Linked DNA regions of Homo sapiens. The protein of the gene in region 3 purifies or fractionates together with the protein of the main gene of each other region. This does not show direct contact. Each region holds a gene or a part of one and is shown on either strand. Other genes may lie near its edges. The genes, in order: ZMYM6, PLXDC2, GCSAML and SPAG9.

What was found.
Region 1: the proteins of GCSAML (region 3) and ZMYM6 purify together in Homo sapiens (affinity purification with mass spectrometry; one large-scale study listed by BioGRID and IntAct). This does not show direct contact.
Region 2: the proteins of GCSAML (region 3) and PLXDC2 purify together in Homo sapiens (affinity purification with mass spectrometry; one large-scale study listed by BioGRID and IntAct). This does not show direct contact.
Region 4: the proteins of GCSAML (region 3) and SPAG9 purify together in Homo sapiens (affinity purification with mass spectrometry; one large-scale study listed by BioGRID and IntAct). This does not show direct contact.

What each region holds. Positions count from the first base shown.
Region 1 is NC_000001.11:35,005,778-35,013,503, forward strand, and holds part of ZMYM6 (zinc finger MYM-type protein 6), read right to left. Parts: intron 6,805-7,726; coding exon 6,654-6,804; intron 6,229-6,653; coding exon 6,113-6,228; intron 5,260-6,112; coding exon 4,981-5,259; intron 4,821-4,980; coding exon 4,670-4,820; intron 3,148-4,669; coding exon 2,975-3,147; intron 1,322-2,974; coding exon 1,174-1,321; intron 1-1,173. UniProt on the Homo sapiens protein: Plays a role in the regulation of cell morphology and cytoskeletal organization.
Region 2 is NC_000010.11:20,143,489-20,151,214, reverse strand, and holds part of PLXDC2 (plexin domain-containing protein 2 isoform 1 precursor), read right to left. Parts: intron 3,432-7,726; coding exon 3,313-3,431; intron 1-3,312. UniProt on the Homo sapiens protein: May play a role in tumor angiogenesis.
Region 3 is NC_000001.11:247,553,558-247,561,283, reverse strand, and holds part of GCSAML (germinal center-associated signaling and motility-like protein), read right to left. Parts: intron 4,878-7,726; coding exon 4,818-4,877; intron 1-4,817.
Region 4 is NC_000017.11:51,106,761-51,114,486, reverse strand, and holds part of SPAG9 (C-Jun-amino-terminal kinase-interacting protein 4), read left to right. Parts: intron 1-7,726. UniProt on the Homo sapiens protein: The JNK-interacting protein (JIP) group of scaffold proteins selectively mediates JNK signaling by aggregating specific components of the MAPK cascade to form a functional JNK signaling module.

The DNA.
Region 1 (7,726 bases), about 210 Mb from region 3:
TCCAACCCCATAACACTAGTTTTCTTAACCCATATTATAAAATGAATATTCTACTACCAGCCTGACTGGTTCTGGGGAATGGAGGGCTAACACGAAAGATTAGCACAAGGCATTTATAATTAAGGTAATCATTAATAAGACTGCAGAGGTAGGCAATGGCCAGACTGCAAAGAGCCAAAGCTCTGTCAATCAGGTAGCACTCCAGGCTTTGAACAGAGAACATAATAGCAAGTGGCTTTTTTTTCTGAGAGAGAGAATATCGTTCTGTAGCCCAGGCTGGAGTGCCATGGCATGATCTCGGCTCACTGTAACCTCCATCTCTTGGGTTCCAGTAATTCTCGTGCCTCAGCCTCCTGAGCAGCTGAGCTTACAGGCACACACCACCACACTTGGCTAATTTTTGTATTTTTAGTAGAGATGGGGTTTCACCATGTTTACCAGTCTGGTCTCGAACTCCTGGCCTCAAGTAATTTGCCCATCTCAGCCTTCCAAAGTGCTGGGATTACAGGTGCGAGCTACTGCACCTGGCTACCAAATGTTTTTAATCTAATACTTAGAAAGAAATACTTAGGAGAGCTACTTTATGAATATATCATGGATCTATCTACTCACCTGGATATTCTGACCATATTAGCTGTCCTACTTGCAAAATTATTTTATTCTTAGCTAGGATAAACTTTGCTACCCATGAAGAACTGTTCCATTTTATATTTTCTGAGATAATTAACGTGTTGTTCTTTTCTCCTTGCCTATAAGCAAGCTCTGAAACAAATTTTACACTAGTCACAGCAACTATATTAACTATACTCTCCCTTTGTTTGCCCTGATTTTCTGTTTTTATTTCTGGTTTATTAACTAAATAGTATATATCCCTAGTTTAAGTTATTTATGTACAGATACATTCAATCAAAAAGCAATCAAATCTAAGTTTCCTATAAAAATTAGTGCATATACATTATTGGCCTTTTGGTGTGCTTGACTATCAGAGCAAAAAGTATTAGAATTACTTTTCCCTCAAGGGGAAATCTTAAAGACTTCTTAAAGAAAAATTTAAGGAAATTCAGGCTATTTGAATCCAATGAAATTTTGTTTTTATTATATTATTTATAACTGTATATGCTGATAGTGTCCTAGCACTGACATAAAAATCCCATTAGCTAAGTTTAATTTTACCTTTATTTTGTGGAAGACAGTCATTCATAATTTGCTGATGACAAAACTCCAAGACACAAAATAGGTTACAGAAATGTTTAATGTTGCCTCGCCACTTTATGGACTCGCTTAGTTTACCCTGTCGTTTACAACCATCACACTTGGCCATCTGAAAAAGAAATGTTAGACAAGATAGGCTTAAAACTATAAAATAATGAAAAGATAACATTAATCATAAAAAGAGGGACTACGAAAACAGGATATATGAGTCAGTTGAGACTACAAAATGTAAGGTTCTTACCTTAAAATACTGATTTTATTTAATTATTTGTTTTATATAGATGCCCTAAATCAAGATAATATAAAAACTGTGGCCAGGCACGGTAATTGTGGGATCACGCCTGTAATCCCAGCATTTTAGGAGGCCGAGGTGGGCGGATCATGAGGTCAGGAGTTCAAGACCAGCCTGACCAACATGGTGAAACCCCGTATCTACTAAAGTACAAAAATTAGCCAGGTGTGGTGGCGCACGCCTGTAATCCCAGCTACTTAGAAGGCTGAGGTAAGATAATCGCTTGAATCCAGGAGGCAGAGGTTGCAGTGAGCCGAGATCGCGTCACTGCACTCCAGCCTGGGTGACAGAGTAAGACTCTGTCTCAATAGAAAAAAAAAAAAATGCTCTTCTGTTTTCAAAATTACCAATAAGGGAATCTATCTAAAGATAGGTTCATAACTGGGCATGGTGGTGCCCACCTCTCCTGGTTACTCGGGAGGCTGAGGCAGGAGAATCACTTGAACCCAGGAGGCAGAGGCTACAGGGAGCCAACATCGCCCACTGATCACGCCACTGCACACCAGCCTGAGCAATAGAACAAGATTCTGTCTGGCTGGGGGATGGGGGGTGGGCAGGTGGGATGGGGGAAGAAAAGATACACAATGAAAAAAGTAAGTAAAAAAAAAATAAAGATAGGTTCAACTTCTAAAAAATTAAGCAGCAGCTTACAGTAGTTGATATAATATGGGCTTTGGAGTCATAAAGATTTTGATTCATTCAGCAAATATTTAATTAGACATCCTTTGTCTTAAGCACTGTGATTGGCCCTAATTATATAATCATGAAAAATATATTACCCTCCCCCAACAATAAAATTCTATTTTTTTAGAGGTAGAAAAACAAACAGTGATTTACCAGAGTGTTATAGATGCTGTCTTGCTGTCACCTACCAGCTTCCTCAAGAGCATATTACTTAACTTCCCTGGACCTCTCTCCTTTTCCTTATTTATAAAATGGCAGTAATATACTTACCTCTTGGGACTATGGTAAGGATTAAATGAAATGACACTTACAGAGCACCAGACATGTATTAGTGGTTCAATTAACTGTAGCTACCATTGTTAGCCTTTCAAAAAGTTAATCTTTTTAAAAATGAGGTAGGAATGGTTGCCAGCTATTGTCCTTTGACCTATGAAGTGAGACAAGGTCTAACTTCAAATTCCTCAGAGTAACCTGAATGAGAGAGCCACTTCAGGCAACATTATGTGAAGTTCTAACCTGAAAGAAGTCAAATAAGGGCAAAGTGCCTCATAAGAAGGCAAAAATAAAAGGAACATATCCAACCAACAACAAAGTCTGCAGAAATCCTATACTTTTTATCCCAAAGATTTCCTGTTTATATTCAATTGAATTTTTCTATTATAGCCCATAACTTATTTTATCCAGTGCTAAACACCAAATTTTTCTTCACATAATTTGAATACATTTTAAATAAAAACAATTTGCACTGATTTCAGAAAGCCAAAAAAAGTATATTATCACATTTACCTGATAAAACAGAACTGTAAATTTGGACATACAATCTTCACAACAAAACTCTTCTAACTTGCCCTCCAATCGATTTTCTACCAAATTTGGGGATGTCTGTGAACAGTAGCTGCACATCTTACAGTAGTTTCCCCATCGTTCTCCAAAGTCACGGGCAGAGAGGAATTTGCAAACTGAGGATCAGAGGGATGAAAGGAAGAAAAATCAAATTTACATTAACTGAGGAGGTATAATAAGTTTCTGTGGTCTTAGATATGAAACTTTAAGCTAATTTCTAATACACAATTATTTGCCTCTAGATTACAGGACAGTCTCTATATTCACAAACCAAACTCATACCACCTTTTATTTTATTTTATTTTTTGAGACAGAGTCTCACTCGTTTTGCCCAGGCTGGAGTGCAGTGGCACAATCTCAGCTCACTGCAACCTCTGCCTCCCAGGTTCAAACGATTCTCCTGCCTCAGCCTCCTGAGTAGAGCAGCTGGGATTACAGGTACCTGCCACCACACCCAGCTAATTTTTGTATTTTTAGTAGAGATGGCATTTCGCCATGTTGGCCAGGCTGGTCTCAAACTCCTGACCTCAGGTGATCTGGCTCGCCTTGGCCTCCCAAAGTGCTGGGAATACAGGCGTGAGCCACTGCGCCCTGCCACCACCTTTTAAATATACTCTAAATATTAGGCCATTTATATTCAGAAACATTAGAGGTATAAAAGTTTTTTAAGCCAAGAAGCAGCAACTGTTTTAAGTTCCTCTTCGCAAATGAGTGCAAGAACAAAAAGATCTCTGATGTCATAGCTAAACTTATGAAGAGATTTTCTTTATTAATACCACTGATGTAATCATTTTTACAGTTTTTTATTGCAATTACTGCAACATTTAAAAAGACTGACTTTCAGCCAGGCACAGTCGCTCACGCCTATAATCCCAGCACTTTGGGAGGCCGAGGCAGGAGTACCACCTGAGCTCAGGAGTTCAAGACCAGCCTGGGAAACATGGTGAAACCCCCCGTCTCTACCAAAAATAAAAAAAATTAGCCAGGCATGGTGGCACGCTCCTGTAGCTTCAGCTACTTGGGAGGCTGAAGTGGGAGGATCCCTTAAACCGGGGAGGCAGAGACTGCAATAAGCCAAGATCATGCCACCACACTCCAGCCTGAGTGACAGGGCAAGACCTTGTCTCAAAAAAATAAACAAACAAAAATAATAAATAAAAAGATTGACTTTAAAGTGAATTAACTATAAACACAATTCAAAAAAACCTTTTTTTTTTTGGAGACAAGAGTTTCGCTCGTCGCCCAGGCTGCAGTGCAATGGCATGATCTCAGCTCACTGCAACCTCTGCCTCTGAGGTTCATGCAATTCTCCTGCCTCAGGCTCCCAAGTAGCTGGGATTACAGGCGTGCGGCACCATGCCCGGCTAATTTTGTATAGAGACGGTGTTTTTTAACAGAGATGGGGTTTCACCATGTTGGTCAGGCTGGTCTTGAACTCCCAACCTCAAGTGATCCACCCACCTCAGCCTCCCAAAATGCTGGGATTACAGGCGTGAGCCTCCATGCCCGGCCTCCAAAATACTTCTAATTACACCTTGTAAGACAAAAAGAATGTGAAAACTAATCATGGCTTAATTGCCCAAGTCGTCATGAATTATAACAACCCATGCTCTGTGAATAAAACAACTTTGTCTTTACCTTCACTACAGAATGGCTTATCAACCCCTGAGAATCGCACAGTCTCCTTTATAATTTTCTGCAGTTTACAGTAGTCACACATTGCCACAACTTTATTTTTCTTCTTGTATTCATCAGAGCAATTCTTGCCACAAAACAGAAACATTTTACCCTGCAGAGAAACAACAGTCCATTAAGAGCCAACTAAACAGTTGCTTTATCTTTAAGAACTCCTTTTCATGTCAAAGCAAATTGAGTGATCAAAATTGAAAACACAAAAGTGTTTCTACTGGATGAGTTTATATACAATCCCTTTCATGATCTCTCTTTACCTTGTAAAAAAGAAGTTCTGGTTTTGTGGCAAATAGATGGTTACAGTGCTGACACTTGAGTTTAACAACTGTATGGGTTAAAGCAACTTGCTGGGATTGTTCAGCAAGAGGTTGGAGGCTGGCTGCAGCAGAGCCACGGATGGAGCTGGGGGAAACGGCAGAGGTGTTACCTCCTCCTATTGACACTGCTGACCTGGAGGAGGGCGGGCTTACAACCACTTGGCCCTGAGACAGGGGCACCGCCGAAGAGTTTGTTCCTTTTGGCTTGCTAAATACATTCTGAATGAAAACAAATAAGGTAAAGATTTTATCAACTGAGAAATAAGATAACTTTGTACTTTTCATTTCCTCATTTTAATAAATCAAGTCTCCCACAAACATTTTTTAAAATTTTCTATCTCACAGAAAGAGTTTAAATGGTATATTTCCAGAATAAAAGGACTGAGAAATACAACATTAAAAGGTCAAGGACTGGAATTCAGGCTTTCCTGACAAAGACCTCCAGTATATGCCTCTAATAAATTAGAGCAGGCCTCTCCTTCCCCCTAAAACTTCCCCCTACCTGCACTCCCATCATCAACCAGCTTCTGATGGCTACTACGACACAATAGCTACCAGCAGTCTCTTTCTCCCTAATGCCAGGGATACTACATCAGGCATGTTCCTACCCTGGAGATTACTAAACTCTACTCTTTGTGTATGTATTGCAGAGAGGGAGGAGAAAATGGGACAAGTGGATGCTTACAATTCCATGCCAGGAGTCACTGTGTTTCTGACACAGGATGAGAGGAAGGGGTATGTGAATCCCATCAGGCTACTGTTCTTCACCATACCACCTACCCAAACCACAATCCTAGCTTCCATCTTTTTGAAGGGGAGAGACCCAAGGGAGAAAGTGGGAGGGAATGACAGTTTAGGCTAGGATCCTAAATAAAGAAGAAACTGCTGAGACCCAATATCTGGGTTCAGATATTTTGTAGAAATGACCTGGTTGGGCCCCTGGATGAAACAAATTTTTTTCTTTTTAATTCAAATTTAAACTTTCATAAGAACAGGCCTTCAGCAGTTAACACTGTGCCACAGATCGATGCCTAACAGAACCACATGCATAATGTGCTACCTTAGATCATACCTGGAAAGCAACCACACAACTGGAGCTGCAGAAGCTGTATATAGTTCCATTTGACATGGCTAGGTGATACTGAGGGATTGCTGAGGTTTTACAACTATGACATGAAACCTGGACACCTTGGTGACAAAAAATTAAAAACAATGATTAAGTTATACCAATGAACAAACAATACAAAAATGTATTGGGAGAATGAAAAAATTAAATAATCAATAATATACCAAAAAAATCAAGGAACTTTATAAAAATCTGAAATCTAACCACAACTAACCTCTATTAAGTCCCACTTACACAAAAACTAACTTGGAAATTTTAAGTGTTTTTTCTTTCCTCTCACATATGAAATTATAAAATACTGTATATATTGCAACCAAGAAAATCGGGGAAAAACTATTTTCACATAAAAGTCAGTTATTTAAAAGTCAGTCTTGGGTTTTTATTTAACTAAATAGATAAATTTAGCTTGTAACAAAATCAGAGAAAAGCAGTTACGTTTTTCTTCAATAGTTATTAAATCTATAAATTTATCAAATTTAAACATTACCTGAAGAAGTAACAGTCTTAACTCTGTAAGCAGATAAGCAATTAATAGAGCAGAAAAGCTCTGTTTTTCCTGAATCATTTGTAGTCTCAATCATTTCAGCTGAGGGCCTCAATGACTTCCCCAGGGCATATGGAGGAATTTGGGCAGAATTCTATTAAAATAAAATAACATTAGATACCTAGTACAAACATACATATTTACATATTGTTCAAAAAAGTAAAAAGAAAAGCTACCTACAACCACGGTCCTTGGTTGAAATATTTGAGCATGATGATGAAACCACACTATTGGGAGGTGGGAAAATAAGTTCTTCCAGACAACAATAAAATAGAAACTGAAGAAAATTAGTAACTATTCAGATAGAGATCTTAGCAAACAAAACACATGAATTCAAACACAAGTAATGAATTAAATAGTCATTACATACTTTTTAATCACCAATAACCAGAGAAGACCAGCTAACCCATGAACCAAAGGGTCATTCTTGGTATAGTCTTGTACATCAATCTAGAAGAGTCTACCACCTTTAAGGTTACTTAATTTGTGAGATTCTTTAGCAGGAGATAGAAATGATATTTAATGTATATTAATAGAGATCCTACACAACTACCTATTTTTCAAGCTGAGTTTCATAATAAAATCTGCTTATAAGTTTATTCATGTTTTAAGAAATAATAAAAATAGCTACCATTTACATAACCAATATTATAACTTACTGAATGCTTACCATGAGTCAGGCCCCAGGCTAAGAAATTTATATATAGTGTATCACAGAAACCTTTCAACAACAGAGTGAGGCGCTCTCAAAAATTACATTAACAAAAAGTTTAAATTAACAGATGAGCAGAAGAAGTAGGAAATTAAACTCATTTCATCAGGCTCCAAAGTTCAGGCTCCTAACCACTACACTATGCTGTCAGTGATACATTATAAGGTCTCTCAATATGAAAAGAAATTGTAGGAAAATATAAATTGTGAGGTTTCACTACATAATCTTCCTAGTAAAAAGACAGAGTACAATACTAGTAACAAAATTAGAAATGGAACTGATTTTGGGATCATATATAAAATAA
Region 2 (7,726 bases), on a different chromosome or scaffold from region 3:
GCTCTCACCTCAAATGCAAGGGGACTCTCTTACGACAAATTTTACAAATAACAATTTGCCTTAGCAAAATAAAATACATAACAATTATTGGGAAGCAAAAAGTGGTAGACTAGAAAAGTAGAAACTGCTTTGTATCGAGAACAAAGAAAGAACAGAAAGGCAAATAATAAAGTAAAGTAAATAATAAAGTAAAAATGACTTCTTTGAACTCCAAGTGCAGAGGGAAGACATTCTTCAGGACAAGAGCCTGGGAATATCAAGAAAACATTAAATTTGCCTGTCATCTTGAAATTCCCCATAACAAAACAGGAAAACCATAGTGGAACTTTTTTCTTTGATTAAAATGAAGAAAAGAAAAGGCCTTTAAAAATACCAACCAAGAACAGAGAAAAGGAAGAATTCTGCAATGTGAGACACCTTTGAGAACAGCGTAAAGAAAGATGACAATTTCAATAATAAAGACTAGCAAGCGAAGCCACAATAAGAACACAAATTTCTGTTTTGACAAAGCCTCCAGGTGGTGAGACCTAAGTCTCCAAACTTACTGACCTTGCGTCTTTACAGAGACTTGACCAGTGTTGGTTCAAACCGTTGAAAATGAACATTGCAAAACGTCACTGTGCAGTTACAGCAATATACTAGATTGCAATGAAAACTAGAAATGAATAAGTCCTTTTGAGAACTATTCTCTCAGCTTCCAGGGAGTGTGACATAAAAATATAGTGGGCTCTGATATAAAAACACAGCCCTGATGTTATTTCTTTGAGGAATCGCCACACTGCTTTCCCCAGTAGCTGAACTAATTTACACTCCCACCAGCAGTGTATAAGCATTCCCTTTTCTCCACAACCTCACCAGTAAAACTACATTCAGGCCAGCAATCCCATTACTGGGTATATAACCAAAGGAATGTAAATCCATGTAACCAAACACCACCTATTTCCCCAAAACCTATTGAAACAAAAAACTGGGTAGAACAAAGAAAATTTTTAGGGCAGGGAAGATTCTGTAGGACACCATAATGATGGATGCATGACATTATACATCCTTAAAACCCTTAGAAAGTACAGCATCAAGAGGGAACTCTAATCTAAGAACTCTGAGTGACATTGATGTGTCAATGTCAATGTAGGTTCATCTATTGCAACAAATGTACCATTCTGGTGGGGTATGTCGATGATGGGGGAGGATGTTCAGCAGGACAAGAAGAGTATGTTCAAACTCTGTGTATTTTCTGCATCATTTTCTGTGAATCTAAAACTACTCTAAAAAAGTAAACTCTATTAATTAAAAGAATAAGTAAATCATTCTGCCACACAGACACATACATATGTATGTTAATTGCAGCACTATTTATAATAGCAAGGACATGGAATCAACCTAAATGCCCACCAATGATAGACTGGATAAAGAAAACCAGGTACATATACACCATGGAATACTATGAGGCCATAAAAGAAATGAGATCATGTCTTCTGTAGGGACCTGGATGGAGCTGGAGGCCATTATCCTTAGCAAACTAATGCAGGAATGGAAAACCAAATACCAAATGTTCTCACTTATAAGTGGGAGCTAAATGATGAGAATGCATGGGCCAAAGAAGGGAACAACAGACACTGGGGCCTACTTGAGAGTGGAAGGTGAGAGGAGGGAGAAGATCAGAAAAAATAACTATCGGCCGGGCGCAGTGGCTCACGCCTGTAATCCCAGCACTTTGGGAGGCCGAGGCAGGAGGATCACCTGAGGTAGGGCGTTCAAGACCAGCCTGATCAACATGGAGAAACCCCGTCTCTACTAAAAATACAAAAATTAGCTGGGCATGGTGGTGCATGCCTGTAATCCCAGTTACTTGGGAGGCTGAGGCAGGAGAATCGCTTGTACCCAGAAGGCAGAGGTTATGGTGAGGCAAGATCTGGCCATTGCACTCCAGCCTGGGCAACAAGAGTGAAACTCCAACTCAAAAAAAAAAAAAAAAAAAAAAAAAAGAAAAGAAAAAAAAAGAAAGAAAAATAACTATTGAATCCAAGGCTTAGTACCTGGGCGAGAAAATAATCTGTACAACAAAACCTCCAGGACATGTGTTTCCCTATATAAGACACCTACACATGTACTCCTGAACCTGAAATAAAAATTAAAAGAAAAACACCATACACTTGGACAAAGAAACATAGAGTAAGACATAGTCTATAATTATAACCTGTTTACACAATTGCCCCCAAGTAAATGAAAAATTTCATTAAAAAAGTTTTTAAAGGAATAGAAATATCTGACATGGTTACAGAATTTTTAAAAGTTGGCCTATTTAATTGTAATTAAATTATGCCGCACTTTATGGAATAGATGGATTTCAGAAGATTTGACCAAAGGGCATTCTTTCTTTATCCTCAACATCCCTTTTATAATCTAGGATTCAATTCTCAAGGAAAAAGTAATCCCTCAGCTGAACATAAGATATCGAGTCTGTAATATTATAAATACCCATTAACCTATGGGTTAATAATGCTCATTAGTAATTCTCACAGTTCAGGTTTCTCTCATAATTAGAGACTATCTAAAACATTACATTTGTAGTTCCTGGAACTTTATTTTTATATTCTTAGTCCAACAGGCCTTACTTACTTTGTCAGAAGAGTTGGAAATCAAACACACAGTTATTCTAGTCTAAATATTCTGTAAATTTAAGGCTACAATTTAGTAAATTTTCATTCTTTACTTTGTCAGTTTGTTAAAATGAAACAAACCTAAGTTTAAATTTCCTTGTTTTTTCTGTCACTTAGGTCTCTAATTAATCTTTCCTATCTGGTTTCAACAAACATTAGCCAAAGCACAGCCATCCTAGAACTCTCTCAGTACTGGGTCCTTGAGCCACATAAGTTTTCGTGTCTATAAATGCTTTTGAAATTAGAACCAAAATATAACAAAGAAATCAACCAGGTGAAAAAAAAAAAACTAACTAAAGAAAATACGTAAATATAAACATTTACATTTAGATGAGAAATCCCTCCAAATTGAATTTTTTTTCTTAGAGACATTTCACTCTAATTACTCAATAATTAGTCAATATAATTACTCAATAATTTTATGAAATTGATGAGTCCTGATGCCAACAATATCAGAATACAAAAGAGCTAACAATCAATGCACCCAGAAAATTAAAACTAATCAAAACATTTTTTATTAAGCAAAGGAAACCAAGAGGCAAGAAAATGATTTGAGGATCATGGCTGTAAAATGTCCCTTTCTTGACATTTGGAGGAAAGGCAGCAGTCAAGAACAAGGGGAAGGGAAAGAAATTATCAACGCATCACTTACTTCTTTGTATCCAAAGATGATTCGTCCATCCATGAGCAGGGTTGCCTGGAATGTGAAGCTTCCCAGGTTATAATTATCCTGGAGATGTACATGGTCCCACTGGACCACAAGTGCTGTGCCTATACACCCATTGAAAAAAGAAGAAATGCAATGAGAAAAACATACCAATCAATTCTGGTGGGAGTTTTCACAAAAATGTTTTTGCATCTGGCCTTCAAATCTGGTAGTTGTACTATTTCGATTTTATGTGGTTAATCAAATTCTGTTATTGAAATAGCATTTGGGATTTTTTTTAAAGGATTGAGTACTCTCTAAATATTTAGTAAAATAGAACCTCATACTAAGGTCAATAATTGAGCTAATGCAGTGTGGGGGAATTTTGCCTTAGGAATTTTATTAATGTTAATAGATACTGTCTGCTTAAATTTCCATAAGCCACTTTCAAAATGCAGCCCAAGTGGATTGAATGAACTTCAAATACATTTGACAAATGCTGAGAGAGAAACACATCTAAAAAGTTAGGACCACATACAAAAGACCTGAAAATGTCTTTTCCATACTTAAAATTATACTTTTCCACATTGAAGGAGTTCCTTTAACACTAATGGGAATTTTCTCCTTGAGTTCACAATGCTTGTATTTCTGTCTTTGTTGTGTTTCTTCCAGGAAGCTGTAAGAAGCTCAAAGGGCCCTGGACTAAGATTTTTGAAGTCCCCTTGAAGCACACTGGGATGAAACTTCAGTGCTGTATATTATATTCTGAATCACTCTGTCAGTGTTTACCATAAACGATTGGGCATGAAATAAAAACTGAAACATAGTTTAATAGTCACCAGTGAGAATTCAAATTTTTGTTTTAACTGACATTGTGTACTCTCTTTTTTTAAAAAAAAAGAAAAGAAATGAGCTGCTAAGACTTTTTCTTCACTCTAAATATTAGATTTTTCTGTTTGGTTAGAAAAACTGTTGCCCAAAAAAGTTGTGCTGAAAATGAAAATCATAGAACTAAAAGAGCAAATCTTATCTCCCAGTAATAAATATCTGATATATTTAAAAATTACAATTGCATGGAAGAATTAATTTTCAGTAACTATTTGGTGCTATTAGTAATATCTCTTGAGCTGGTTGACAATTTTAAATAGACACATTATTTCAAATATTTTGAACACCCAATTGTAAGTCCTGAAAGGATGTTGAAGTAAAGAAATGTATTTCTTTTGAGGCAAAACTTTAAAAGTAAAAAAGAAAAAAAAGTTTTTTAACTTGACCTTGGTGCTTTTAGCCATTATCACTGCTGTGAGTGAAGACCACTCAGGTCTCTTCCTTCCACGGGCATCTCCGTGTCTATATTGTCCTGAGGGAGGGAGGGAGGGAGGGAGGGAGGAAGGAAGGAAGGAAGGAAGGAAGGAAGGAAAAAGAAAAGAAAAGAAAGAAAGGAAGGAAGGAAGGAAGAAAGGAAGAAAGAAAGAAAAAGAAAGAAAGAAAGAAAAGGAAGCAAGGAAGCAAGGAAGAAAGAAAGGAGGGAGGGAGGAAGGAAGGAGAAAAGAAAAGAAAGAAGGAAGAGAAAAGAAAAGAAGAGAAAACAAAAAAAATAGAGCAAAAGAAGACAGTAGCCAGGAAACCTCCCATGATTTTATAAGTATAGGAATTTTCTGATTGTGAAATGCCTCCTAACTTCTTTTTCCTTCACACATGTCTACAACCCTCAAGCTCTAGTCTATTCCTTATTTTCTAGTTTCTATCGCACTCTGGTGATGCAGTGAAAACAATGAACCAGAGGGCAGAAGACTTAGACTTGCATCTTGTCTCTATAAAACTTTCCATGTGAACTTGGACACAATTAATCTGCATGAACCCGTTTCCTTTCCTATAACATGGGGAGTATAGTTTTTGCCTTCAAGACATTCCTGCATTAAATACAAGAAAATATACTTACGCTTGATTATTTATGAAAATAAGAGGGCTATATAAATTAAAGTTTTTAATGCCAATTCTGAGGAAGGGATTCCTAATATTTTGTTAGTAGCAGGTTGTTAAAAACCACACTGTTGACCAGGTGCGGTGGCTCACAACTGTAATCCCAGCACTTTGAGAGGCCGAGGCAGGCGGATCACGAGGTCAGGAGATCCAGACCATCCTGGCTAACACGGTGAAACCCCATCTCTACTAAAAAAAATATTAAAAAATTAGCCGGGCGTGGTGGTGGGCGCCTGTAGTCCCAGCTACTCGGGAGGTTGAGGCAGGAGAATGGCATGAACCCGGGAAGCGGAGGTTGTAGTGAGCAGAGATCATGCCAGTGCAGTCCAGCCTGGGCGACAGAGTGAGACTCCATCTCAAAACACAAAAAACAAAAAAAAGTGTACTGTTTGCACATGTTAAGTTTTATATTATGTAATAGCATAGCTCTCTCAACATTTGCTGATTTAAATTTTCTAACCTGCTGCTGTCTTTTCCAGAGAAGTTTGCTTTCCTAAATTGTTGAGTTTCCAATCTTTAAGTATCCTGTCAATGATTCTAACTAAACTTGAAAATATTTCAGCAAGTTGTTGTGGTATTAAAAGGGCTTCGTGAAGAGTCTTACAGTGTTTAAAAGTGTTTCATTCATTTAATAAAACGTAAGTTTTCATTATCATATTGTTTGAACTCAATATTCCTCAATATTTGATTCCTATGGAATAAGTCATTACACAGAAGATATTTCAGTGGGTAAACAATACATGCATTCTTGAGTATTAATACTTTTACAATTCTCAGACATAAAACTCACTTTACGTATGTAATTATTTTTATTCATTCATTGAATAATTATTTAGGACCTACGTCCTAAATAATAAAGTGTCTATGCAGGGTACTGGAGATAAAATGATTTCTTATAGCCACAGTCCTTGTTTTTAAAGAACTTAAGAGTTCAGTTGGAGTAGTATACATCAATTTTTAAAAATCATTCAAATACGAGTAAAATTCAAATATTAAGAGCTACCTAGGAACAAGGTATATGAAAATATATGAAGAGAGACTTATTTAATATGCTTTATGATTTTGATAGCAACAGTATAAAAACTTGGTCATTAGAATCATGTGCCCATGAGTAAATGACCCTAACATCACCTAGTGAATGTCGGAGTTTGGAAAATAGTCAGTGTTCACTAAATCATTTATTGTTTCCGTAGGATAGACTCCCAAGGCAATTTTGCATGGTAATCATAGAATAAGTTTCAGATAAGTTTCTGGCTGCAGTTTTGCCTCAAGAATAGTGTACTTACAGTCCACTTGCACATCCTTGGGTGTTAGCACCTCATGAGTTTTTAAAAAATGGAAGAGAAGAGAATATAATAGTTCTTAAAATAACAGAGATGAATCATTATTGCAGCTAACACTTAGAGTTACCTAATATTGGATCATACCTTGGTGTTACTCAAGATGTTCAACGTGTATTTCCTAAGGTGAATGTCTAACTATGTTTAGTTTCCTCATTGTGCTATTTTGACCTGTAAAATGGCTTTCATCACACTGGTCAGGAGATGGCTCTTAGCAAAGTGATCATATTTCTCCAAGGCTACAGCTACCATCAAGTCTATTCCAACCATGAGCAAATTTCTTCCTTGATCATCAGAAATAAGATAAAAGTAGAAATAACTCTGTTCACCCCAAATGCTTGTATTATTTGCAGGCATAAAATTGTCTTTTAAACAAATAAATATCATTTTTGAATGATAAATACACAGAAAATTCTATATTTAATCATTGCAATATAAACTCTTTGTTACCTATAATTTATTTTCTCTACCAAAGTTACAGCTTTCAATAAGATGTTGAGATGAAAATTCATTTATGTCTCCAAGACCTTGAATTTCTCGCTTGGATTTTGGCACCACTTAATGATTTATTATAGTTTTTTTCTCTATTTTATATGTCCCAAAAAGTAATAGCAGGGATACATTGCTCTTGGTATATTTGATAAATCTTGACAGGCTCTCACTCATTTTCTAAAGTCAAGAAAACTTTATTTTCTTCAGTTGAACTACCCACAACTAACTACTTTATACTTCTTAAAATATGTGTTCATCTTATTGATACATACAAGTCATAAGTTTTGGAAATTTAATGTCAATATATTATGGCACTTGCCTCAACTGGAAGATCAGAACTAACAAAATTATTCTTATTTCCATTTTTTTCTGATGGGAAAATTGGAAAACTGACTTATTGAAATAGCATCAAATAAATGCGTTTGCTTTGTCTGAGGTCTTGTCTACAGCAACTCAGTTTTACTGTGTATAGTAGATGTTAATAAATGTGTTGAATGAATGAATGCCATTTGTGTACTTTATAAATCTTAGCAGTATAATATTTGTCCTCTCAGACCATTTGCATCAAGCAGTTTACACACCAAAAAATAAACAGTTTACAAAAA
Region 3 (7,726 bases):
TACAAGTATGCTCTATCAGTTTTAAAAGTAGGCCAGGTGTGGTGGCTCATGCCTGTAATCACAGCACTTTGGGAGGCAAAGGCAGATGGATCACTTGAGCCCAGAAGTTTGAGACCAGACTGGGCAACATGGCAAAACCCTGTCTGTACAAAAAAGTTGTATATTAGCCAGGCATGATGGTGTGCACCTGTAGTCTCAGCTACTTGGGAGGCTGAGGTGGGAGAATTGCTGGAACCCAGGAGGCGGAGGTTGCAGTGAGCCGAGATCACGCCATTGTACTCCAGCCCCAGTGACAACAGTGAGACTTGGTCTCAAAAAAATAAAAAATAAAAATAAAAAAAATCTAAACAAATGAAACAAAAGTAGAATGAGAGAAAAGTCATAAAATAAATACTTAAATCTGAAAACCGACTTCACAGGGGAAAAAACAAATGGCATGGAACACTGAGATATGGTGACTATAGTCAGTGACAACGTGTGCTTGAAATTCGCTAAAAGAGTGGATCTCAAGCATTCTCATCACACACAAAAATAATGGTAACTGTCTGAGATAATAAATATATTAAGTTGTTAATGTACTTATAGTGGTAATCACTTCACCGTATATACATATCAAAACATCATATTGTGTACCTTCAATATGTACAATTTTTGTTTTTCATTCATAGCTCAAGAAAGGTGAGAAAAAAAATTAAAATAAAGACATATGTATAAAAGAAAATAATACATGTTTGGGGGTGGGGGTAGGGAACAAATAATGAGTTTTCAAACTTTCATGGGGAAAATGTATGTAAAACCAAGTCATCAGGAAGGCGGCTTAAGGTGGCTCAGCTCCACAGCTGCAGAGTGGAATTACGTTCACTAAGTTGTGAGGAGAAAGATACGATCCAAGAACTGTATTACTCTCCAAGGAAAGAAGATGTGTTCTCAAATGTCTTAGTACTGAGATAATCTAAAACCTACGAGGTCTTTAGGAAAGAAATAAAGCAAACATTACTGCACAACCACATTTGGACTTTGTAAAATGTGAAGTTATGTAACAAAGCAGCTGGTGAATGGGGAATTCAGCCACTCAGTTATCTGTCGTTCCGAGGCTCCAGCCACAAAATCCAAACCTATCTAAGTCCGGGCTGTGGATTATCAGCACCTACTGCTTGTCCACTCTCTCTTAAATACAGTGGAACAATTCTGCATGCTGTGGCCGCTGGAAATGTCCAGACAGTGGCAGGAATTCCTGGATTTCTAAGAATCCTCTTAGATTTTCTTGACATCTCTCATGAACTAAATTATGTCCCCTTAAAATCCACATGTTGAAGTCCTAATCCCCAGAACCTCAGAATGTGACTGTATTTGGAGATAGGATCTTAACACAGGTAATTAAATTAAAACAAGGTCATAAGATTGGGCCTTATTTCAGTATGACTGGTGTCTTTATAAGAACAGAACATTTGAACACAGTCGTAACACAGAGGGAAGACAATACGAAGACTCAGGGATAAGACAGTCATCTACAAGCCAAAGACAGACTTCACAAAACAGCCCACCTCTGCCAACATGTTGATCTCAGACTTCCAGTCTCCGCAATTGTGAGAAAGAAAATTTTGGTTCTTTAAGCCACCCAGTCTATGGTACTTCGCTATAAGAGCCTTAGTAAATGAATATAGATAGATATATGGGAACTAGACTAGGCAATACTAATGAAACAGGACCTCCCTCTATCCTCCCTATCCGAGAGGAAGCTGCCTGCAATGTCCCTGGGTGTCCTTGATCTCCCGTCACAGGGACCTTCTCACACTGCGGAAGATGAAGATTTTAGCAAGGCCGTCATTTCAGAAAAAAAAAGCTGGACAGAAGATGGCATGATAAAGATTAAAACCGACAAACACCTAATACTGTCATGAATTGCTACACACCAAACTATTTAGAATCCATATGAAAGAAAGAAAAAGAAAACATGAAAGGTAACTCAAATAAACCAGTAGATTAATTTCTCTCAGCTAATAACAAGCAGGAGAAATAATGACAGTGAATATCTGAAATACACAATAATGTTTCTCTAGCAGACAAATTTCAAAATTATGATCTCTGAACAAAATATTACATAATATATTTTCAAAATCTAGGCACATAATGATGTGCACAGATACCAGCTAGTATGTATTGAGTGTTGGTGCCAGACAGCCATCGTGCTGATGAAATAGGCAGTGATTTCTTTTTCCATAAACACAAGCTAAAATTGTAGTATTTTAAGGCTATTTTGCATATGAAGAACCCAAAATTTAGAGAATGTAAGTAACTTGTCTCAAAGTTAACATATAGGACAAAGAAGACTTTAATAAAATCTATAAAGCAGAAATAACACAGACCACACAGATACTGGTAACAAATAAAATTTAAATTATATTCAAGACTATAAAACAATATTTGAAATTTAAAAACTACTCAGGTCCAAGAATAAATTAAAAGTTGCAAAATATTAGACAATAATAGTATTTCCTTCAATTACACATAGGATACAGGTAAAATATTATTTAGAGGGAAAGTTTGTATTCATATATGCTTCCATTCCTAAACAAGAAAAGTTGAGAACAAAATTATTGAGTTTTGAATTCAAAACAATTAGAATAGCAACAATTTAAAAAACTAAGGAAAGCAAAAATAAGAATGCAATAAAGATAAAAGCAATGATACTATGACATCCTGGAAAAAATGCAAAACAGAAATCAGATCAGTGGTTGCCAGGGGTTGAAGGGAAAGGGAGGGTGGTGGAAATATTCTGTATCTTGATTGTGGTGACTACATGACTGAGTATGTTTTTCCTAAACTTATCAAACTGTATATATGAGAAGGGTGAATTTTACTGTACTATACCTCTATAAGCCTACATTTTAAAAGTTAAGTGACTTGAAAGAGCTCATACTGTCCTTTCTGTAAATATGTTTAAATGAATAATATTCTGATAAGAATCCAATAATCAAAATTGACTCAGGAAGATGTAGAAAATCCAACTTTATTCAATAGACATCATCCTGTGAAATTAGCCAAAAAGGAAACTGACTTCTTAGCCCACATGCAACACATATTTGACTGCAATTGACTAGAATGGTAAAATGGTTCAGATCTTCCTCACCATGCTGACTAGTGAAAATTCCATGAGTCGTGCTCCTAAAATTTCCTTGCATGAGAAAACCCTAACGACATTTAATTTATCTACATTTAGTTATTGTCTGATTGTAATAAAGGCTTGCTGGTATTTGAAAATGTTAACACTTCAGTTCCTTTAACAGAAAAATATTAGAGAATGACATCTAGTGCAGATCTCACTTTAGACATGATGAAACAAAAGCCTAGTTTAGATGACTAGTTTATGCGTAAGTTAAATGCCTAATGGGAATGCCTGAATTAAAAGTCTAGTTTAAAAGACGCTATACAGAACTGATTCACAGCAGCTGATAAAAGAACCTTGGTTCAATAATATCACCAAATCATTGCTATCTCCTCTCCAGCTACAAACCATAAGGGGAGTGGGGGGAGTCGGGGGAGCGTGAGAAAGGGTCACAAGATAGGCATAGCCAACTCCACTGTCCCTGAGGGCTGACTCATGAAGCCAACTCTCTCCTTTGTGCAGGAAAGTGTCGTTCAAACATTTAGGAGGGGGCTGATGCCTGCAAACATCATTTCACATCACCAACAGATACCTGGCTCATCTCCTCAATCCTCTGCCCCTTCATACCATGGAAAAGAAGAAGAAGCCATCTCAGAGACAGAAACCAAGACATTGAGATGAAATGATTAAAAAAGAGCTTAGTGCAAGAATACGAAAAGCCTACAGTTAACCAACAAGGCAGGGTGTTTCTGTTCATCTAAGCTGAGGCAAGATATCAACATCTAGATATCTACCATTTTTCCACTCCATTTTTTTTCTTTTTTCCATTGAGTGTCTTGCAAGGGTTGAGCAACAGATATACATTAGCAAGTGAAACAGAAGTGACGTTAAAGTGCGTATGGTCTATGAAGGAAGTGGACTATAAAGAGCTCAAACGACATATAGAGTTACAAGTTCAGATAAAGGCCACAGCAAATATAAGTAGGTTCTAGTGCCATAAAACCATGCGGTGCAGAAGCAAAGTTCCTCCATAATCTTTCAGAGAAGGGCATGAGGGCCAGCATCTCCAGGAGGAGACGTTATCAATCAGTCCAAATGCAAATATGGAATTTTTTTTTAATTGTGCAGTAAAAGACCAGCTTGTAGAAATGCCCTAAAGTGAGGCTGAGTTTGGTGGCTTAAAGAACATCAAATAAAAGGAGAATGCATGTAAGATAGTGGGTGAAGGTAGAGAGTGAGGAACCAGATGGGAGAGATGCAGAATCCAATCCTTATGGAACTGTAGGCCCTGGTGAAGAGTTTGCATTTTATTCTGAATGCAATGAAGAATGACTGAATGGTCTCGGGCAAGGAAAAGGCATAATGAGACATGTTTTCCAAAGATTATTCTGGCTACTTGTAAGGAAAAGGTGGGAAATATGGCCACCACATATAACCAACCAAAACCAAACATCCTTTATTCTATCTTTATGTTTCTACACTCACATTATATAATCAATAGAAACAAAACACGTGGCTAATACCCTGTCTTTCTTATTTAGACAGAGTCAATGTCTAACCTGCTGCCAAGTCATGCAGGTAATCACCAAAGAACTCTATTATAGCGGCCCTAAGGGGTGTTAGTTCTAGTGGGGCAGAGACTCTGGAAGTAATCTCAATGAAAAAACAAAACAAAACAAAACAAAAAAACTCTGAGATGCTCTGTTCTTACCGTTTTCTTTCCTCATCTGGGTTTCCTTTCTTGGGCTTCTTTTGATTCTCTCCCAGGCAACTATATGGAAACACATAAGAAAAAAGAGAGATTGTTACTGCCCTCCACATTTTTTCACCTTCTTCTCTAACTTTCTAGACCATTAAAACCAAACCTGACTTTTCTTTTTGACAAACTTCCCTTTCCTTCAAAATCAATAAGCAGTCACAGATAGAATGCATTTCAGAAATTAACCACAGAGACCAGGACTCTGATGGGACAGAATGCCCATAGTCTGACTTTTGATTCTGTCAGTCTTAGGATTTCTTGTGACCCAACATGCAAACTTCCTGCATCTCTAGAAGAGGTGAGAGCTCCCAGGAAGCTATAAAGACCTTAACAACAGGGAAGCATCACTTTTGCAACAACCTGAGGCAAGATGATCTGCTTGTACACACCTTTGTGGACTATGAGGACTGCCAGTCTTGGCCCACTGAACCAGAGCAAGCGTCTCTGGGCCCTGCTGCATGTGGGCATCCATGTGCAGATAAGACATTGGGATCTTTACATACATTCAGGAAAGCTGACTTTTTCATATTACTCTTGGTGTTTTGCCATCAATTATCATCATCTTTATGATAATCAGGCAAACACTAAATGACGAAGTTAGAGAAATCAGGTGATTTGCGTGGTTAACACAATAGTTAGCAGCTTATGTTTGTGACTTGGTTAATCAAACTTTCTACTCCACCAGTTGTCCACACATAGCATTTCCTTGATGGTTTTCTTTTCCTCTATTGTCACTTCTGCAGCACTGGTCTATCCTTCTGCTTCTAGGTAGCTTTGCATATAAGAGCCTCACTTCTGCTTACCAGCAGTATTCGGGGAAAGCATTTCGAACCAACGCTGAGAAAGTGCCTTCCCTGAATAGAGGTCATATGTATATGTTCAAGAAACATTGCTAGATATCAACACACAAAGCCACTAAGCAAAGAATATATTTGTTAAATATAAAGGAATATCAATTTACAGAGGTGGGGGCTTTTTATAGAATCAGTTGCTGATGTAGAGATTTTGTATAATAGTCACGATCACAGTCAAATCTGGATGTAATGTTTATTTAATAGTGTAGATTGTAAATCAGGTAAAAAGTAATTTAACTGTCTCCTTTTTTCCCCTTTTCCTGGAGTCTAGTTTTCTCACGATTCCATCTTCCTAAACTGGTCAATAAAGAAAGAATTTGGTAAAATAATTGTCCTTGGGGTTATTAGTGATTCATTGACTTACACATCTAAAGGATGTTTGTATTTTAAAGTTGAAAACAAGACAGGAAAAGTATTTAACATCAGTAGGGACCTAATTGGAATTCCACACCATTAATATTACTGAATATAACTGGATACTAAATTCTACTGTGAATAAAGTAAAAAGTGTTTTTCTTAATCCAGAGGAATTCAGATAATATCAGGCCATAGGTGATGTACAAAAATTTGTTGACCAAATTAATAAATCAACTAATACTCTATTGTTTTCAAAAATAGGTATTTTATTAAGCTTTAGATGTATCTTGGCCAAAGAATTAAGATTATGAATAATTTTTTATACCTTCTGTGTTTTTTCTTCTTATTTTTAAACTTTCTAAATGTTGGATGTTGACTTATGACTTCATAACTCTACAAAGAAAGTCTTAGTAAACATCCCCCAAAATCAACAATTTGCACATGATTTCTCCAACTATCAAGCAGTAAAATTAAAACCCAATAAGCTATAACCAAAAGTGTACCTGTCTAGGCACAAGTAATATTCTAAATAATCCTTATGTTAAAGAGGGAATCATAAAGGAACTTTCTAAAAACACAGAATAAAATAATAATGCAAGCTACACAAGACTATTTGAAGGATAAAGTGAAGTGTGAAGAAAATAGCTTGCTAAAATACATTCATAAGAAAACATAAATGACTAATAATGACAAAGTAAGCATTTATCTTAAGAAGTTGGGAGAAGAAAAAGGAAACAAGAAAGTTGTGGGTAAAAATAAATATGATAGGGAACCAAATCTTAGAAAAGAATAATATCAGTAAGATAGCAAAAGTCTGGAAAGACCAACTAAAGAAATAAGGAATGGAGACAAAAATATAATGAAAACAGAAAGTTCAAAATAAGTATTACAGACATAAAACAGGCATGATGAAGAATTATGTATAATAAACATTATGGCTTAAAATGAATAATATCTTGGAAAAAATGAAATATAAAAACTGACACATGAATAACATCAATAACAAAAAAATCCAGCTTACACAGCTGCGTACACAATTTACCAAACTTCAAGTGACAAATATACTCTCTCATATATAAGATGTTCCAGAAAGTAGAGAAATGTAAAATGATGCCAACCCATTTAATGAGATTGGTAAACTTTCATTTCAAATTAAATAAATCAAATTTTTAAAAATCACAGGTCCAACTCGATCATGAAAATAGATGCAATAATCCTCAATAAAATATAAGTTAACTAAATCTAAAACTATAGTAAAATTGCACACATCACAATCAAATGGGTTTTATCCCAGAAATTAAAAGATAGGTAATTAGCAAAAATATTTATTAACATAATTAACTACTTTAGAAGCCTAAGAGAAGAATCATGAGGTTATCTCAATAGTTTAAAACTGCATTTGATAATGTTTGGTCCTTATTAACAATAAAAACCCTCAGAAGAGCTGGGTGCAGTGGTGCAGGCCTGTAATCCCAGCTCCTTGGGAGGCTGAGGCAGGAAGATCACTTGAGGCCAGGAGTTCAAAGCTGTAGTGCACTCTGATTGCATCTGTGAATAGCCACTGCACTCCAGACCGGGCAACATAGTGAAATCTCATCTCTACATATTTTTTTAAAAAGTAGAATCTCCTTATTTTGATAGAGGCAATAT
Region 4 (7,726 bases), on a different chromosome or scaffold from region 3:
AGCTACTTTTTGTATTTTTAGTAGAGATGGGGTTTCACCATGTTAGCCAGGCTGGTCTTGAACTCCTGACCTTGTTATCTGCCTACCTTGGCCTGCCAAAGTGTTGGGATTACAGGCATGAGCCACCATGCCTGGCCCATTTTTTAAAAAATTTATTTTTGAGACAGAGTCTTGTGCTGTCGCCCAGGCTGGAGTGCAGTGGTGCGATCTCAGATCACTGTAACTCCCACCTTCCAGGTTCAAGCAATTCTCCTGCCTCAGCCTCCCTAGTAGTTTGGGATTACAGGCACGCGCCAGCACGCCCGGCTAATTTTTGTAGTTTTAATAGAGAAGGGGTTTCACCATGTTGTCCAGGCTGGTCTCAAACTCTTGACCTCAGGTGATCCCCCTGCCTCGGCCTCCCAAAGTGCTGGGATTACAAGCGTGAGCCACCGCACCTGGCCTAAAAAACACATATTTTAATATTTTTATAGATCTTTTGATTGATTGATTGAGACGAGATCTCACTCTGTTGCCCAGGCCAGAGTGCAGTGGTGTAATCCCGGCTGACTGCAACCTCTGCCTCCTGGGTTCAAGCGATCCTCCCATCTCAACTTCCGGAATAGCTGGGACTACAGGATCATGCCGCCATGCCTGGCTAATTTTTGTATTTTTTGTAGAAATGGGTTTCCCATGTTGCCCAGGCTGATCTTGAATATTTGGGCTCAGACATTCCTCGCACCTCAGCCTCCCAAAGTGCTGTGATTACAGGTGTGAGCCACTGCACCCAACCTATTTTCTTTTGTTGTTGTTGTTTTTTTTTTTTTTGAGATGGGGTCTTGCTTTGCCACCCATGCTGGAGTGCAGTAGCGCGATCTTGGCTCACTGCAACCTCTGCCTCCCGGGTTCAAGCAGTTCTCCTGCCTCATCCTCCTGAGTAGCTGGGACTACAGGTGCTCACAACCACACCTCGCTAACTTTTGTATTTTTAATAGAGATGGGGTTTTACCATGTTGTCCAGGCTGGTATTGAACTCCTAACCTCAGGTGATCCACCTGCCTTGGCCTCCCAAAGTGCTGGGATTACAGGTGTGAGACACTGTGCCCGGCCAACCTATTTGCTTTTTCTTTTCTTTCTTTTTTTTTTTTTTTTTTGATATGGCATTTCACACTTGTTGCCCAGGCTGGAGCGCAATGGTGCGATCTCAGCTCACTGCAACCTCCGCCTCCCAGATACAAAGGATTCTCCTGCCTCAGCCTCCTGAGTAGCTGGGATTACAGGCATGTGCCACCATGGCCAGCTAATTTTGTATTTGTAGTAAAGATGGGGTTTCTCCATGTTGGTCAGGCTGGTCTCGAACTCCCAACCTCAGGTGATCCGCCGGCCTCGGCCTCCCAAAGTGCTGGGATTATGGGTGTGAGCCACCACGCCCGGCAGCGGCCAACATTTTTTCATATTTTTAAAAATACCATTTTTTTTTTCTGAACTGTTTGTTTTTGTGATTTTTTTTTCCTTTGGTTGGGTTTTTTTTTTTTTCTTTTTTTTAGAGATGAGGTTCAGGCTGGAGTGCAGTTGTGCAATCATGGCCCACAGCAGCCTTGACCTCCAGGGCTCAAGTAGATCCCACTTCCTCAGCCTCTGAGCAGCTGTGACTACAGGCATGCGCCACCATGCCTGGCTAATTTTTAATTTTTTTTGTAGAAACAGGGTCTCGTTATGTTATGCAAGCTGAACTCACTATGTTGCCCAGTCTGGTCTGGAACTCCTGGGCTCAAGTGGATCCTCCTGCCTTGTGGATCCTGCCAAAGTTTTTTTTTTTTTTTTTTTTTTTTTTTTGTTGAGACAGAGTCTGGCTCTGTCGCCAGTCTGGAGTGCAGTGGAGTGTCTTGGCTTGCTGCAACCTCCACCACCTGGGTTCAAGCGATTCTCTTGCTTCAGCCTCCTGAGTAGCTGGGACTACAGGCGCGCGCCATCACACCCAGCTAATTTTTGTATTTTTAGTGGAGATGGGGTTTCACCATGTTGGCCAGGATGGTCTTGATCTCGACCTCAAGTCATCTGCCTGCCCCAGCCTCCCAAAGTGCTAGGATTACAGGTGTGAGCCACTGCGCCTGGCCTTTTTTTTTTTTTTTTTTTTGTAGAGATGGGGTCACACTGTGTTGCCCAGGCTTGTCTTGAACTCCTGGCCTCAAGACATTTTCTTACCTCAGCCTCCCAAAGTGTTGGGATTGTAGGTGTGAGCCACCACACCTGGCCATGGTTAACGATTCGAATAATGTTCACACTGCCCCTAGCCAGAGTAGATAGAGATATGCCCCTGCACCTAGTCATTCAGACACTTTCTGAAATGAACAATCTATGTTTGTTTTCTGGCGGGAGTGGGATGGGAAGGGGTATGGTTGTTGCTTTATGAAATAATAATTTGTTAGTTAATTATTACTTAAGCTCCTAAGACATTTTTTTTTAAAGACAAAGACTAGCTCTGGATTAAGACATCTTTTTTTAAATTTGAGATTTCTGAATGTGAATATCTAAATGAGATACCATTATGTGTCCCTGCTGTAGTGACACTCATATTTTTATTTAGTTAAAAATCACAAAAGAACGCTACGCATGGTGGCTCATGCCTGTAATTTCAGCACTTTGGGAGGCCGAGGTGGTGGATTGCCTGAGGTCAGGAGTTCAAGACCAGCCCTGACCAACATGGTGAAACCCCGTCTCTACTAAAAATACAAAAATTAACTGGGCATGGTGGCGGACGCCTGTAATCCAAGCTACTCCGGAGGCAGAGGAAGGAAAATCACTTGTACCTGGGAGGCGGAGGTTGTAGTGAGCCAATATCTTGCCATTGAACTCCAGCCTGAGCTACAGAGTGAGACTGTGTCTTCAAAAGAAAAAACAAAACAAAAAAAAATCACAAAAGAGGACACCAAACTGGGTATAGTACCAAACTGGTTCAGAGGGTAGATTAGTAGATTGACTATTCACTGGATTGCTGAAGTGTGTGCCATAGGTCACACATCCAGTTCTGTGCTTGAGAGAGTACAGGATTCCTGCTTCTTGAAATCTTTACCTTACCTTTAACTACATGCTGCTTACTTATGTTGTACTGAACTTTGCTTCTCAGGAGAACTGATGTTAGAACCTACCCAAGTTATTTTGCTCTGCTCTGCACTCAATGAATACAGCTGTTATCTAAATAAGTTATTAGGTTGTGGTCAGAAATATCTGCATAGACCAGTTTAATAATGTATGTAATGTTATATATATTTAAAAAGCTGTTATTTGGAAATGGGTATATATAAGTTCTGTTTTTTACTTTGAAATCTTGACCAGTGATATTTGATTATTGCTTTGAACATAGCACTGTGTTTTCTTTTCTTTTTTTTTTTGAGACGGAGTCTTGCTCTGTCACCCTGGCTGGAGTGCAGTGGCGGGATCTCGGCTCACTGCAACCTCCGCCTCCTGGATTCAAGCGATTCTCCTGCCTCAGCCTCCCGTGTAGCTGGGACTACAGGCGCCCGCCACCACACCCGGCTAATTTTTTGTATTTTTAGTAGAGATGGGGTTTCACTGCGTTAGCCAGGATGGTCTCAATCTGACCTCGTGATCTGCCCGCCTCGGCCTCCCAAAGTGGTGGGATTACAGGCATGAGCCACCCACCCGGCCATACTGTGTTTTATTTTCTTAAGAATTACAGCATTCAGTAGTTTGGCATAATAGGCACACCCAAAAATGTGTGAGGTGAACCATGGGAATTTATATATTAATGTAATAGAGAAGTACCAAGTTGAGGGTATAGAATTTTATTTTATGTTATTTTTTTCGAGACAAGGTCTGGCCCAGGTTGGAGTGCAGTGGTGCGATCTTGGCTCACTGCAACTGTTGCCTCTTGGGCTCAAGCCATCCTTCCGTCTCAGCCTCCCAAGTAGATGGGACTACAGGTGTACACCACCACGCCCAGCTAATTTTTGATATTTTGTAAAGACGGGTTTCACCATGTTGCCCAGGCTGGTCTCGAATTTGTGAGCTCAAGTGATCTGCCTGCCTCGGCCTCCCAAAGTGCTGGGATTACAAGCGTGAGCCACCACGTCCAGCTAGGGTTTTTTTTTTTTTTTTGTAAGGTTAGTAAACTTTTTCAGTAAATCCACCACCACCCCTCCCAGCTTTTTATTAGGTAAACTTTCAAACATATAGAAAAATGGAAAGTACATTTGTCATTTGTATACCCACTATATAGATTCAGTAGTTGTTGTTTTATTTATCTGTCTGTATATGTGGATGTGTGGGTGTGGATACACATATACACACATACACATATTTAATTGCTGAACCATTTTAAATTGCAGACATACTTTGCCCCTCAGTACTTAACATATTTAAATTACAGACATTATGATACTTTGCCTCTCAGTACTTAACATATTTATCTCCTAAAAAATGAGAATATTCTGCCATATAACCACCATATTATTTACGTTTGAGAACATTTCCAAGGCCGAGTGTAGTAGCTAATGCCTGTAATCCCAGCACTTTGGGAGGCTGAGGTGGGCGGAACACTTGAGCTCATGAGTTGAAGATCAGCCTGGGTAACATAGCAAAACCTTGTCTCTACAAAAAATATAAAAATTAGCGTGGTGTGGTGGTGTGTGCCTATAGTCCCAGCTACTTGGGGGGCCGAGGCAGGAGGATCGCACCAGCCTAGGAAGTCAAGGCTGAGGTAAGATGTGTTCATGCCACTGTGCTCCAGCCTGGGCAACACAGTGAGACTCTGTCAAAAAGAAAAGAAAAGAAAAAAAAGAACCTTTGTAATATCATCTAATATTAATTTGAATTAATTTTTAAGAGCACAGTATGTGTCAGTTATTATATAGCTAACTAGCTTCTTAATATGTTTATAATGAATTAATGAAACTCATCTGGGAGGAAGTGTTTGCATTTTAGTTACTTTTCTATAAGAAATTTAAATTTGAGGCCGGACGCAGTGGCTCACGCCTGTAATCCCAGCACTTTGGAAGGCCGAGGTGGGCAGATCACGAGGTCAAGAGTTCGAGACCAGCCTGACCAACATGGTGAAACCCCGTCTCTACTAAAAATACAAAAATTAGCTGGGCATGGTGGTGTGTGCCTGTAATCCCAGCTACTCCGGAGGCTGAAGCAAGAGAATCACTTGAACCTGGGAGGTGGAGGTTGTGGTGAGCTGAGATCGTGCCACGGCACTCCAGCCTAGGCGACAGAGCAAGACTCCATCTCAAAAAAGAAAAAAGAAAAAGAAAAAGAAATTTAAATGTGAAATATATAAAACGGAATTAAAATTGGCTAATTTTGTTTTAAAATTAGCACATTGGCCAGGCGTGGTGGCTCATGCCTGTAATCTTAGCACTTGGGGAGTCTGAGGCGGGCGGATCACCTGAGGTCAGGAGTTCGAGACCAGCCTGACCAACATGGAGAAACCCTGTCTCTACTAAAAATATAAAAGTAGCTGGGCTTGGTGGTGCACGTCTGTAATCCCAGCTACTCAGGAGGCTGAGGCAGGAGAATCGCTTGAACCCAGGAGGCTGAGGCAGGAGAATCATGTGAACCCGGGAGGTGGAGGTTGCAGTGAGCTGAGATCATGCCATTGCACTCCAGCCTGGGCAACAAGAGCGAAACTTTTGTCTCAAAAAAAAATAAAAATAAATAAATAAAATTATCACATAAAAACTATTATGGACCAGGCACAGTGGCTCATGCTTATAATCTTAGCAGTTTGGGAGGCCAAGGAAGGAGGATAGCTTGAGCCCCAGAGTTCCAGAACAGCCTGGGCAACATAGTGAGACCGTATCTTTACAAAAAATAGAAAAATTAGCCGAGTGTGGTGGTATGCACCTGTGGCTCCAGCTACTTGAGACGCTGAGGTGGGAGGATCCCTTGAGCCCAGGAGGTTGAGGTTGCAATGACCCCTGATTGTGCCACTGCACTCTGGCACACAGCACCACTTGCTCTGGGTGACAGAGCAAGACCCTGTCTCAAAAAGAAAACAAATTATTTTTCCCCTTTTTGAAACTTTGAGATATAGAAATACAGAAAATGACCCTATATTTAATATTTTTGCTAGTAACTATTTTTTTTTTTTTTTTTTGAGACAGTCTTTCGCTTTGTCACCTAGGCTGGAGTGTAGTGGTGCAATTTCATCTCACCACAACCTCTGCCTCCTGGGTTCAAGTGATTCTTGTGCCTCAGCCTTCTGAGTAGCTGGGACTACAGGTGCCTGCCACCACACCCAGCTAATTTTTGTATTTTTAGTAGAGACGGGGTTTTGCCATGTTGACCATGCTGGTCTTGAACTTGCAACCTCAGGTGACCTGCCTGCCTCAGCCTCCCAAAATGCTGGGATAACCAGCACCAGCCACCGCCCCATGGCCATCTTTTTTTTTTTTTTTTCTTAAATCATGTATTTCCAGGATATCTTGTTTCTGACTTGTTTACCTACTCTGCCAGGGTTATAGAGCCTGAGAAATTCTTTTACCTGCTGATAAGATTTCCTCTGGGGTATAGGCCTGGAATTTTTATGATTCTGGATTCTATTACTGCCCCCCTCCCTTTTTTTTTTTGAGACAGTGTCTCATGCTATTGCCCAGGCTGGAGAGCAGTGTTGCAATCAGAGCTCACTGTAGCCTCAACCTCCTGGGCTCAAGCTATCCCCCTACCTTAGCCTCCCAAGTAACTGAGATTATAGTTGTGAGCCACATGCAACATCTATTATTGCCTTTTTTTTTTTTTTAACCTTTTTTTTGATGGAGTCTTGCTGTCGCCCAGGCTGGAGTGCAATGGCATGATCTCGGCTCACTGCAACCTCCACCTCCCGGGTTCAAGCAATTCTCCTGCCTCAGCCTCCCGAGTAGCTGAGAGTATAGGCGCGTGCCACCATGCCCAGCTAATTTTTGTAGTTTTAGTAGAGATGGGGTTTTACCATATTGGCCAGGCTGGTCTCAAACTCCTAACCTTGTGATCTGCCCACCTTGGCCTCCCAAAGTGCTGGGATTACAGGCGTGAGCCACCGTGTCTGACTATTATTGCCCTTTAAAGTGTGTTTTCTCTTGTTCTTCCTGCAGTTTTAATTAAATTAATTAATTTTTTTTGGTAGGGATGGGGGTCAGACTATGTTGCCCAGGCTGGTCTCAAACTCCTGGCCTCAAATGATCTGCCGCCTTGGCCTCCCAAGGTGCTGGGATTGCAGGTGTGAGCCACTGCATCCGGCCTTCCTGCAGTTTCTTTTAAAGAGCTGGACAGGAACTTTATGATTCTCTAGTTCTACCTTATCCCATTCCCCCAAGTAGGTGGAAAGATAAACAGAAACATAGATGCTTAGAAAGAACAAATATTTATTGAGCCAGGCTCTGTTCTTTTTCTTTTTTTTTTTTTTTTGAGATGGAGCACTCGCTCTTGCCCAGGCTAGAGTGCAGTGGCGGGATCTTGGCTCGCTGCAACCTCCGCCTCCCGGGTTCAAGCGATTCTTCTGCCTCAGCCTTCCAAGTAGCTGGGACTACAGGCGTGCACCGCCATGCTTGGCTAATTTTTGTATTTTTAGTAGAGACGGGGTTTCACCATATTAGCCAGGCTGGTCTTGAACTCCTGACCTTGTGATCTGCACACTTCAGCCTCCCAAAGTGCTAGGATTACAGGCGTGAGCCACTGCACCCGGACTTTTTTATTTTTATTTTTAAAAATTAAGACAGAGTCTTGCTCTATTGCCCAGACTGGAGTG